Regions from separate parts of the Homo sapiens genome. Here region 1 is linked to region 2. Evidence: fine-mapped expression QTL. A gene starts in region 2. The other region holds a variant in brackets. All regions are shown on one strand. Distances are between the middles of the regions. Region 1 overlaps ZFP28 (ZFP28 zinc finger protein). Region 2 holds the start of ZNF471 (zinc finger protein 471).

Region 1 (5,377 bases), 41 kb after region 2:
AGTGAGGTTTCAGAGCTGGTGAGTGCTGGAATTGTAATTCAGCTTTTGGGGTAGTCCAACTGTTTCGCATGTTCATTTCAGTTTAGACTTTGAAAATCCCACAGCTGCTAGTCAGTTAAATCTGCCTTCTGTTAGCCACAGGTTCCTGGGATTAGAGTTGCAACTGAATAGATGTTTAAAATACATTGGAACGTATCAGAGTTGTAGGCTGAATTTGTAAAACTATGCTCCATAAAAATCTGCCAGCAGGAGCTGAGCAGCCCCATCTTGCCAGTTGGTCAAGAAAATCCTGCTCATGCCAAGCTGTTAGCAAATGTGCTCCTGATAGCTCCTCATAATGCCTAGCTTCTCCAAGATGGCACCTTGGTTCGTAAAGGCATTTCATTAATTAAAAACATTATAGTGCTTTTTGTTTTTCATTCTTATTACATATTCATTTTAGAAAAAAAAATTGCTAGATTTTTTTTTAATGACCTCTACTGAACACTGAGAGTAAAAATAGAAATTCTTAGAACCCAGTTTAGTCATGAATAATATTGATGCTTTGAGGTTCATCTCAAGTTTATTGCCCAGTTCTTGTGCTGCTTCAGGCCACTCACATGTCCCCATGTTGGACAGTGCTGTAGTACCTGTTGTGCATAGAACAAGTTAGTCTTTGTTATTTATAGTTTTGAATTGATGTCAGGGGTTTTTCTTGTGGCTGCCTCCTTTCACCTCCACAAAACTGCAAGTTCTCCAAAGTCAGGGGCTGTCTCCATATTTTTCTCTTTTACCTGGAGTTTAAGACAGAATGAGGCTAGCTGTACAATACCTAACTAGATCTCCACAGTTCTGAGTTTATAGTCTCTTACTCAAAATGAAGACAAGGAATCTTTAGATCCCTATATTAGTTTGTTAGGGCTGCCAGAACAAATACCACAGAATGGGTGTCTTAAACAACAGAAATTTCTTTTCTCAAGCTTCTGGAGGCTGGAAGTCCAAGATCAAGGTGCCTGCAGGTTTGGTTTCACCTGAGGCCTCTCTCCTTGGCTTGCAGACGGCCGTCTTCTCTCTGTGTCCTCACGTGGTCTTTTCCCTGTGCCTGCACACCGTGGTATCTCTTCCTGTTTTAATAAGGACACCAGACAGATTGGGTTAGGGCCCCACCCATATGACCTCATTTAACCCTAATTACCTCTTTGTAGGCCCTGTCTCTAAATACAGTCACATTCAAAAGTACTGGGGATTAGGAGTTTAATGTAGGAGTTTTGTCAGGGGACACATTTCTTTCTATAACAAACCCCCAGTCATGTGGGGGCATGAGCACTGGTTGAGCAAGAACATGGTTATATCATTTCAGGGCTTGGTGACATTTGGGGATGTGGCTGTAGATTTCTCCCAAGAGGAGTGGGAGTGGCTGAACCCCATTCAGAGGAACTTGTACAGGAAGGTGATGTTGGAGAACTACAGGAACCTGGCATCGCTGGGTAAGGGCTCCCACCCCTTTTCCCACCCCTCACCCTACCCACGTCCTGGACTAAGAAGCCTTTCATGCCTTTATCACCCAGACCTGCACTGCCCTCTTGCGTCAAGCCAAGGGGACTGCATCTCAGTCTGGACAGCCACACAGTATGACCAGGTTGTTTTTTATGTGTCTAGGACTTTGTGTTTCTAAGCCCGATGTGATCTCCTCGTTGGAACAAGGAAAAGAGCCTTGGACAGTGAAGCGAAAGATGACAAGAGCCTGGTGCCCAGGTGAGTGTGGGAGAACCAGGTAGGGTGAGGCCACTGCTGGTCATAGTTCAGCTGACTCAGACACGCAACATCTTCAGCAGACTCTTCCTAAGCCTCTTGCTTAGGAATATCTGTTATTTTTACTATTTGGGAATACAGAAATTTCAACTACAGTATTATTTCCAGAACAGCAAATTATTAAGACAAGGAATTAGAATTATAGATTTCTTTCAGAGGTTTTATCCTAACAGGAAATGGTTACAGTTTCTAAAGCATTGGGAATCTTACAAGGTTTCTTTGTTCAATTCACACTTCAAAGGAAACGCTTGCATTGACAACAGGACAAGTTACTGACAGTTATAAATTAAAGTGACTCACATGGGTCATCATATAGCATAAGAGAACAAGAATGTGTGAAAGTTTCCAATTTAACATCATATGAAATCACATACTTTGAGCTAGTTTAATGAGATAGAACTGTTTTTTCTTCCTGCAGATCATTCATCTCTTCTTGAGACTAGTTAATTGTGAAGACTTACATTTTTAAGGCCAGGATCTGGACTTTTATTAGTTAGCATCGTAATAAAAAAAAAGGAGGTATGTAGAGATAGAGATGAAATTTTTTCTAGATGAAATGGACAAGGAGTGAAAAAGAGTTGACTTAAAGCTGAAATAAGGATCATATGGCAGTTTTCTTCTATAGCCTCCACTTTCTCTTTATATTAGACATTTTATTTTACATTTAAGTCTTTGTGAGCTCCCTTATCTCTTGATTTTTAATTGCTTTTTCCAGTCTTCTGCTAAAAACATAATGTGAACTCTTATTCAACTTTTAGGTGGGAAAGGTCTTATTGTGGCCTTTAGGACTATGGCTACACAAATTTAGGAATGTAGGGTTGGTTGAATATTGCTAGTAATATAAGAAAGCTTTCAAAATGATATGCTTTTCATTTTCTTCCATAAAAATAAATGACTATATGCTTTTTTGTGGCTTTTAATTTAACGGTTGCATTTTGGAATTTTTCTTCATACTAACACATGATAAAAGATAAATTTACCTTCTTTA[C/T]GTCTTTCAGACTTGAAGGCTGTGTGGAAGATCAAGGAGTTACCTCTCAAGAAGGACTTCTGCGAAGGAAAGCTATCCCAGGCAGTGATAACAGAGAGACTCACAAGCTATAATCTGGAGTACTCTCTGTTAGGGGAACACTGGGATTATGATGCTCTGTTTGAGACACAGCCGGTAAGTCACAAGACAAATTTCAGGCAAGAGGAAGGATCCTTCATGAGGAAACTCTTCTTGAGGGAAGAGACCATGACTACAACAACTATAAGAGAAGTTTTCATTTGAATACAATGCTTCTTATAGACAGATTATCCCCTCAGAACAGAGAGTGCCTAATCTCCATACACATAAGAACAGTGGAGGGGGAAATTGAGTTGTAATGAATTACAAACAAATCTGTCAAGGTCAGAAATGTTTGACTTGTGATGAATGTAAGAAAGCTTTGAGCAGAGGCCAGGCGCGGTGGCTCACGCCTGTAATCCCAGCACTTTGGGAGGCCGAGGCGGGTGGATCACAAGGTCAGGAGATCGAGACCATCCTAGCTAACATTGTGAAACCCTGTCTCTACTAAAAATACAAAAAATTAGCCGGGCGTGCTGGCGGGCGCCTGTAGTCCCAGCTACTCAGGAGGCTGAGGCAGGAGAATGGCATGAACCCGGGAGGCGGAGCTTGCAGTGAGCCGAGATCGCGCCACTGCACTCCAGCCTGGGTGACAGAGCAAGACTCCGTCTCAAAAAAAAAAAGCTTTGAGCAGAATATCAACCCCTCCTTTTCATCAAAGATTTCATACAAGAGAAAAACTCTGTGGACTTGTTGAATAATTTGTATGAATATGGGAAAGCCTTCCGTCTGTTAAAAGGTTCATACTGTGTGTAAGTTCATACTGTGTGTAAGTATGACAAACTCTCCATAGCAGAAAGTTTCTCCTATTTTTCTGTGTTTTTCCCCAAACATGTATGCTATAACTAAGCCCTGTCATTATTTGACCTGGTGTACCAGAACTTAAGTTGCAGTTCTTGGTATGGAGTGCCTTTTTTGCAGTGTGGACACAGTCCATCCCACTGAGACCAGGTGAGTTCACGAACATGGTTTGATTTAAAAAACGTGCTTTTACCATTGCAGGGCTTGGTGACTATCAAAAACCTGGCTGTTGACTTCCGCCAGCAGCTACACCCAGCTCAGAAGAATTTCTGTAAGAATGGGATATGGGAGAACAACAGTGACCTGGGATCAGCAGGTAAGGATGTCCCTCTCCCATATTTGAATCTATCGTCGGGTACCTCCATTTCCAAACTTCAGTTTTGAATTATGGAGGAGGGAGGGGGTGTCTTCTGACATGCTGGCCTGAATTTTGTGGATTCCTAAGATAAGAATTTGGCATTTGTAGAGGTGAAAGTTGGTGTCTTTGTTAGGCTTGAAGCGTTATCTTCTTGTGTCTTTCAGATCCTACTCACCTGTTTTTCTGTTTCTTTCAGCAGTAACACTTTTCTATCAACAAGGAAGTGGTTCTCAATTTTAGGATGCCAAGACTATTGGCCAAACCTCATCTCTTTTCACTTTTTCAGGACATTGTGTGGCTAAGCCAGATTTAGTCTCTTTACTAGAGCAAGAGAAGGAGCCCTGGATGGTGAAGCGAGAGCTGACAGGAAGCCTGTTCTCAGGTGAGTGCAGGAGAGCCTGGTGTGGAAAATCTACTGCAAGAGAGAGCGGAGCTTTTACCAAAAAGGCTGCATCCTCACTAATATACAGTAGGAAACTTTACCCAGGGTCTCTGGGTCTGGAAAGAAAATTGAACTCTGGGAGTTCCAAATAATTCTTTCCTCCTCCTTTGCCCCCTTCTCTCCAGTAACTGCCATTTCCCTGAAGTTCCTTCTTTTCTTGGCCACTGGGACGTGTATCATCCACTTGCTTCCTTAAATGATCTTTTCTGGACCCTGATGCACTTTTGAGCTGACTTCCAAAGGTTTTCTCTTCTGTGGTTAAATGGCCTATTGTTTTCATCATGCATCCATTCCTGTGAGAACCACAAATTGAAAGTTATGGGATTGAGCCACTCTGCTGAGTATTGGCAGGCGATTGGAAAAAGGGAGAATTACACATAAATGTAAGCCATCAGTGAATTACTCTAATGGAAAGGATAAGACATGTTTATGGATAGCTTGCATGAAGTAGAGTTTGCAGAATTTCAAATAGGGCATTATAGAGACAAAGGAGATGTTGTTCCCAGTGGTGTCTATGTTTTAGTAGGACAGGTGGGTAGAAGTTGAATTGCAAGAAGGTGGAAGTAAAGGATCTTTTCCTCTTGATGCACAAGGGAAAGAAAGGAAATTTCCATAGAAAATAATGGTTTGTAGAAAATGTAATTGTTTACTGTTTGGCAAAAGAATATAAAACCGTGACGTTATCACAACATACACCTTAGATCCATTTAAGTCAGGATAAACACACATTTTTTCACATAGTAGAAATTACAGTGTATATTCAGTTACGCATACACGTTTTTCATGTGGATTCCACGTTGTATATACCATTGCTCACTTAGGTTGCTTTACATTTCTTAGTATTAAAGATACAATTATAATAGATTTTTTTCAAGTTAAG
Region 2 (5,377 bases):
AAAGTTGAGAATATCATATTCTGTCCCAGAAATTAATTTGTAATCCAAATTCACCTGGTCACCAACACTGTTGTTAAATTTGATATTCTTCAGAAAGGAGTTAAGCTTAAAAATAGTGCACTGTTACAGGATGGAAAGAGTTCTGAATTTGGAAAGAAGAAACTTGAATTAGAGTAATACCTTTGAAACTTATTAGATGTGTGGCTTTGGAAAAAGTCCCTTATTGTTTAAATCTTCAACTGTAAAGTTAGTTATTCAATTTTATTTTTACAAGAATTATGTGAGATAATACCTTTGATGGCCCATGAACAAAAATGTGGTATATATAAAGTAAAAATTAGATAAAGAAAACATTATATATGTAATGTAATGATAATTTAATATATAGTATGATAATGGAAATACCCCTTACTTCCTTGGTGGGATGAATGAGGACAGAAGAATCAAAATAATCTCTTGTTATTGGTTGAATTTTGTCTGCCCCAAATTTTGCATGTTGAAGTCCTAACTCCCAGTACCTCAGAATGTGACTGTATTTGGATATAGGATTTTTACAGAGTTAATTAAGTTGAAATGAGGTCGTTAGGGTGGGTCCTAATGCAATCTGACTAGTCTCACCATGTCTCCATGGGTTTTCTCTGGGTACTCCAGATTCCTCCCACATCCCAAAGATGTGCACAGTAAGTTAACTGGTATGTCTAAGTTGTCCCAGTCTGAGTGAGTGTGGGTGTGTAGTAGGCTACACAATCTAGGTTTGTGTAAGTACACTCTATGATGTTTGCACAACAAGGTTCTTAGGAAATTGCCTAAGAACCCATTTCTCAGAATGTATCTCCATCCTTTAGCGATGTAGACTGTATTTCCATACTGTAAATAGTCCCCTTGTGGTGGATTTCAATCTACCAATATGACATCACTGAATGTGGAGTTAGAAAGAAAGGTACAGTTCATGGCTCTCAGTTCCTACAGCTCTTTTAATTTCCTAAATGACTGCAGCAATAAAGTATCTTTTGTTAAAATATCTGGCCTTTTGTTCCTGGTTCCTGAAAAAGCTCCAGAACAGCTCCAGAGCCATAAAGGTGAAAGACAGTATTTCAACCACACATGAGTTTATGTTAATGAGGTGATTTTTGGAAACTCTCAAGATAATCCCAATATTTGGGGGGAGTGGTGGCTAGTTGCCAGAGGAACCAGCCATGTGCTCAGAGGACTGGAACTCACAGCTCCACCCTCTACTTCTGGGAAAAGAGAGAGCCTGAAAATTAAGTTGATCGCCAGTGGCCAATGATTTAATCAATCACATCTACATAATGAAACCTTGAAAACCGAAAAGGCCTGAGTTCAAGCGGCTTCCAAGAAGGTAGACAAAAACACATCCTCGTGCTGGGAGGGTGGTGCACCCCAACTCCACGGGCACAGAAGTTCCTGCACTAGGGATTCTCTCGGACCTTGCCCTACATGTCTCTTCATCTGGCTATTTGTATCCTTTAAAATATCTTTTATAATAAACCAGTAAACATAAGTGTTTCCTTGAGTTCTGTGAGCTGCTCTAGCAAACTAATGGAACCCAAGGAGCCGGCTGTGGGAGCCCCAATTTATAGCACATCTCTCTGAAACACAGGTACAACAATCTGGAGTTTGGAATTGGCATGGGAAGTGGGGGACAGTCTTTTGGGACTGAGCTGTCTAACCTGTAGGATCTGATGTTTTCCAGGTAGCGTCAGAATTGAATTGGAGTAGCGGTCACCTGGCTGGTGTCTGCTGCAGACAGGTTTTTTTGACATGTTAAGACATTATAAGAGACAATAGAAAAAATGTATACGATACAACCTTCTCTGAGTTATATTTCTCCATAGCCCTTTTTACTGTTCATCAGACTGTTTATCTAACTCATGAATTTGTGGCTTGTCTCTCTCCGCTTCAAAGTAAATTACATAATAAGAGGACAGGGATTTTTTTTTCTCTGCTGTATCCCCCTGAATTGCTTTTCCTTATTTGTCTCACCTTCCAATACTAATTCTACAGTTCTCCTAGTCAGGGCTAGTCCCCTAAAACGGGGACCATTTCCATTTTGTTAAGGGGCTGAACGCGGTTCAAGCCTAGCAGATTGGTTCCAAAAACGTCGTGTTATTCACTGCCTCTGATCAGTGACATTCCCATTTGCAGCTGAAAGAGGTATTAATTCGCCAGAGTCACAACACGGTCGGGGTTCCTCGTCGCTGTCTTATTCCAAAATAAGCTTAACACAGAAAGATAATGACACTCCCACGGACTGGCACAGAAGGCCGCGCTCCGAATGACATCGCGATCACAGAGGCACAGACAGCGTCACAAAGCCCCACGCGTACTCACACCGAAGGCTCAGCCGTCGCGCGTTTCCCTCCCAGGCCCCAGGAACTAGTAACTAGGGACGCTTCTGGTCTCTAGGCGAGGAGAGGGGGAGAGCGCAATCTTTGCGCCTGCGCACACTCCTGCTCTTACCCGCCGGAACCCTGGGCCACGCCCGGCTCGCGTAATCACGCACTGCGCAGGCACCGCCCGCTCTGCTCTAAGGTCCCTCTCACTCCTTCAGCAGCCCGAGGACAATCCCCTCAACACTAGGCCACGCCTTGTCTCCGCCCCTCTCGTCCGACCCCTGGAGAGAGGCTGGCGCCTGCGCGATGGGGGGTTCCAGCGTCGACTCACGGAGTCCTTCGGATGAGAGCGTCTGGGTGCCAGACGAGGCCGGGGGTTTGTTTTGGGTGGTTTGGGAGTCCGAGCTCGAGGGCTGGGCCAGGAAGGGCAGGCGAGGCGGGCGGCTCCGACGCGGGTCGCGAAGGCCCAGCCGCGTCCTCTGTCCCCAGGACGACTACATTTCCCAGAGGCCAGCGGGGCGCGCGTACTCGAGTCTGCGGGGCGGAGGCCGCGGCTCGGGGCTGCTGGGCGTTCGGGGCGGCTTGGGGCGGCGGGACCACTGGAGTGAGCTGTGGGAGAGATGGGGGTGTGCCTGTGTGTAAAAGATCTGTCAGAGTGTGAGGCTCCGTGAGAGGGTGTGGTTTCTGTGTGTGTGTGTGTGTGTGTGTGACAGACCGAGAGTCCAGTGTGAGACCAGGGTATGTTCGTGTGTGACAGAGCGAGACGGGCCAGTGTGAGAGACCAGTGAGTGTGAGAGAGATAGGGATGTGCCTGCATTTGAAAGAGAGCGTGTGAAGCTCAGTGAGAGGTTGCGAGGTGTGTGGGTGTGTAAGTGTGTAACAGACCAGGTGTCCAGAGCGTGAGACCAGGATGTATTCGTGTGAGAGAGTGAGACGGGCTGGATGGAGTGTGAGAGACCAGTGAGTGTGAGAGATGGGCGTGTGCCTGTGTGTGAAAGGCCGGTCGGTCGGTGGGTGAGGCTCAATGAGAGGCCGGTGTGTGTTCGAGAGAGAGAAGAATCACCATGTATGCGAGACTAGACTGTGCAAGAACAGAGTGTGAGACTGTGGTATGTTAATGTGTGAAAGGGAGACCAGTGAGTGTGAGAAATGGGTGTTTTGGGTGAAAGACCCGTCAGTGTGTGAGGCCGTGTTATGTGTGTCTGACAGACTGAGAGAGACCAGAGTGTGAGACCAGGGTGTGTTCGTGTGTGAGAGACAACATAGCGTGAGACCAGTGAGTGTGAGAGAGATGAGCACGTGGCTGTGTGTGAAAGACCAGTCATTATGTGAGGCTCCTTGAGAGGCTGGTGTGTGTGTATGAGAGAGAGAAAGAGACTAAACTGTGAGAGTCCAAAGAGTGAGACTAGGTTATGTTGTTATGAGTTTGTGAGAGAGAGGGAGGCGATCAAAGTATAGGACAAAGTTATGTTTCCTGGCTTACGACTTCTAAGATCCTTGGAATCTCCAAAGTATTAAGTGTCTTTTTGCATGCTAATGATTGGTGGGCTGGCAGCCTGTAGGTTGATCACGGTAAGGGATGGTCACAAGAACAATCTAGGCAGGATTAGAGGGTTGGGATTACCTGCCCCATCCCTCAATCTCCAGGGAAAGGAAAGGGAGCCACAGGTTAAACTGATCATCAGTGGTCAGTGATTTAACCAGTCATGCCTACATTATGAAGCTTCCATAAAAACCCAAAAGGACTGGGTTCATCAAACTTCCAGATAGCTGAACACTGGAGGTTCCTGTAGGATGAGCCCCTTCCTATATAACCTTGTCCTATGCATTTCTTCACCTGCATCCTTTGTAATATCCTTTATTACTACAAACGTGTTTCCCTAAGTTCTGTGAGCTGCCCTAGCAAATTAATTGAACGCAAGGAGGGGGTCATAGGAACCCCGATTTATAGCTAGTCAGAAGCACAAGTAAAACAACCTGGGGTTTGCAACTGGCATTGGAAGTGGGGAGCAATTTTGTAGGGCTGAGCCCTCAACCTGTGGGATCTTATGCTGTCTCCAGGTAGATAGTGTCAGAATTGGGTTGCCCTAGAGGTCACCCACCTGGTATTCACTGGGTTGCCCTAGAGGTCACCCACCTGGTATTCACTGAAGAACTTATTGCTTGCCTGGTGTGTGTGTGTGTGTGTGTGTGTGTGTGTGTGTGTGTGTAGATCCCCACACATCTGGTCTTAGAACTGTTTTGTGTTGTGTGAGTGGAGTAGGAGAAACAGTTTGTTTTTCCTCTTTGTCACCTGAGTGTGTTATCAGGGACTGGATTGTGAGAATCCAGAGTGTGAGACCAGGGTATATCAATGTGTGAGAGAAATAGATGTGCCTGTGTGAAAGATGAACAAGTATGAGGCTCCCTGGAGTCTGAGAAAGATCATGTGTGTGTCTGAGTAAAAGCAAGAGACTAGACTGAGAGTTCAGTGATTGGGAGAGACTGGGGTATGTTGGTGTGAGTGTGTGAGAGACCAATGGGTATGTGAGAGACTAGAGTATGTCTCTGTCTGGACTGGTAGGTTGTGAGAGGGTGTATCACAGTATGAAAAAGATTGGAGTGAGAGTGACCAGTATGTATTTTGTGTGCATGAGATAAAGCAGTTGGAATATGAGAGATCAGAGTGTGTTTGTGTATCTGTGTGAGACACTGGAGCATTTGAGTAACTGAGGCCTCTTTGAAAGATACCATTGAATGTGTATGTATGAGAGACCATCATGTTTATATGTGTGAAAGAGGGAGAGAAAGACTAGTGATGTGGTTGTGTGAGAGACCAAAATGGGTGAGAAAGAAACTATGTGAACCATGGTGTGTTATCCAAAAGGCTTTACAAATATAACCTCTGTGAGGTTGTGAAGCATGCATGTGTGAGTGAGACAGAGATAAGGGACAGTGAGCTGTGTGTGTGAGAGAAGTAAGATTGGGGGTATGTGTGAAGGTGTTGGTGAATCACCACGTGTGCTTATATTCATGTCCTCAGG

What was found. PIP is the estimated chance that this variant, and not a neighbour inherited with it, causes the effect.
Region 1: its variant is the best candidate, but not a certain one, in a credible set for the expression of ZNF471 in whole blood (TOPMed, PIP 0.84).

The regions. Positions count from the first base shown.
Region 1 is chr19:56,546,169-56,551,545 of GRCh38, forward strand. It overlaps ZFP28 (ZFP28 zinc finger protein), which reads left to right. Exons shown (of 8, transcript NM_020828.2): 3 at 1,340-1,466; 4 at 1,639-1,734; 5 at 2,790-2,953; 6 at 3,899-4,013; 7 at 4,342-4,437. It overlaps ZNF470-DT (ZNF470 divergent transcript), which reads right to left. Exons shown (of 2, transcript XM_047439806.1): 2 at 1-1,103. Among named protein-coding and RNA genes, the nearest start is that of ZFP28, 9.9 kb to the left of the region's middle. RefSeq lists an enhancer at 1,116-2,315. The variant C/T (reference allele first, on the strand shown) is at 2,780.
Region 2 is chr19:56,505,191-56,510,567 of GRCh38, forward strand. It overlaps ZNF471 (zinc finger protein 471), which reads left to right and starts at 2,665. Exons shown (of 5, transcript NM_020813.4): 1 at 2,665-2,730.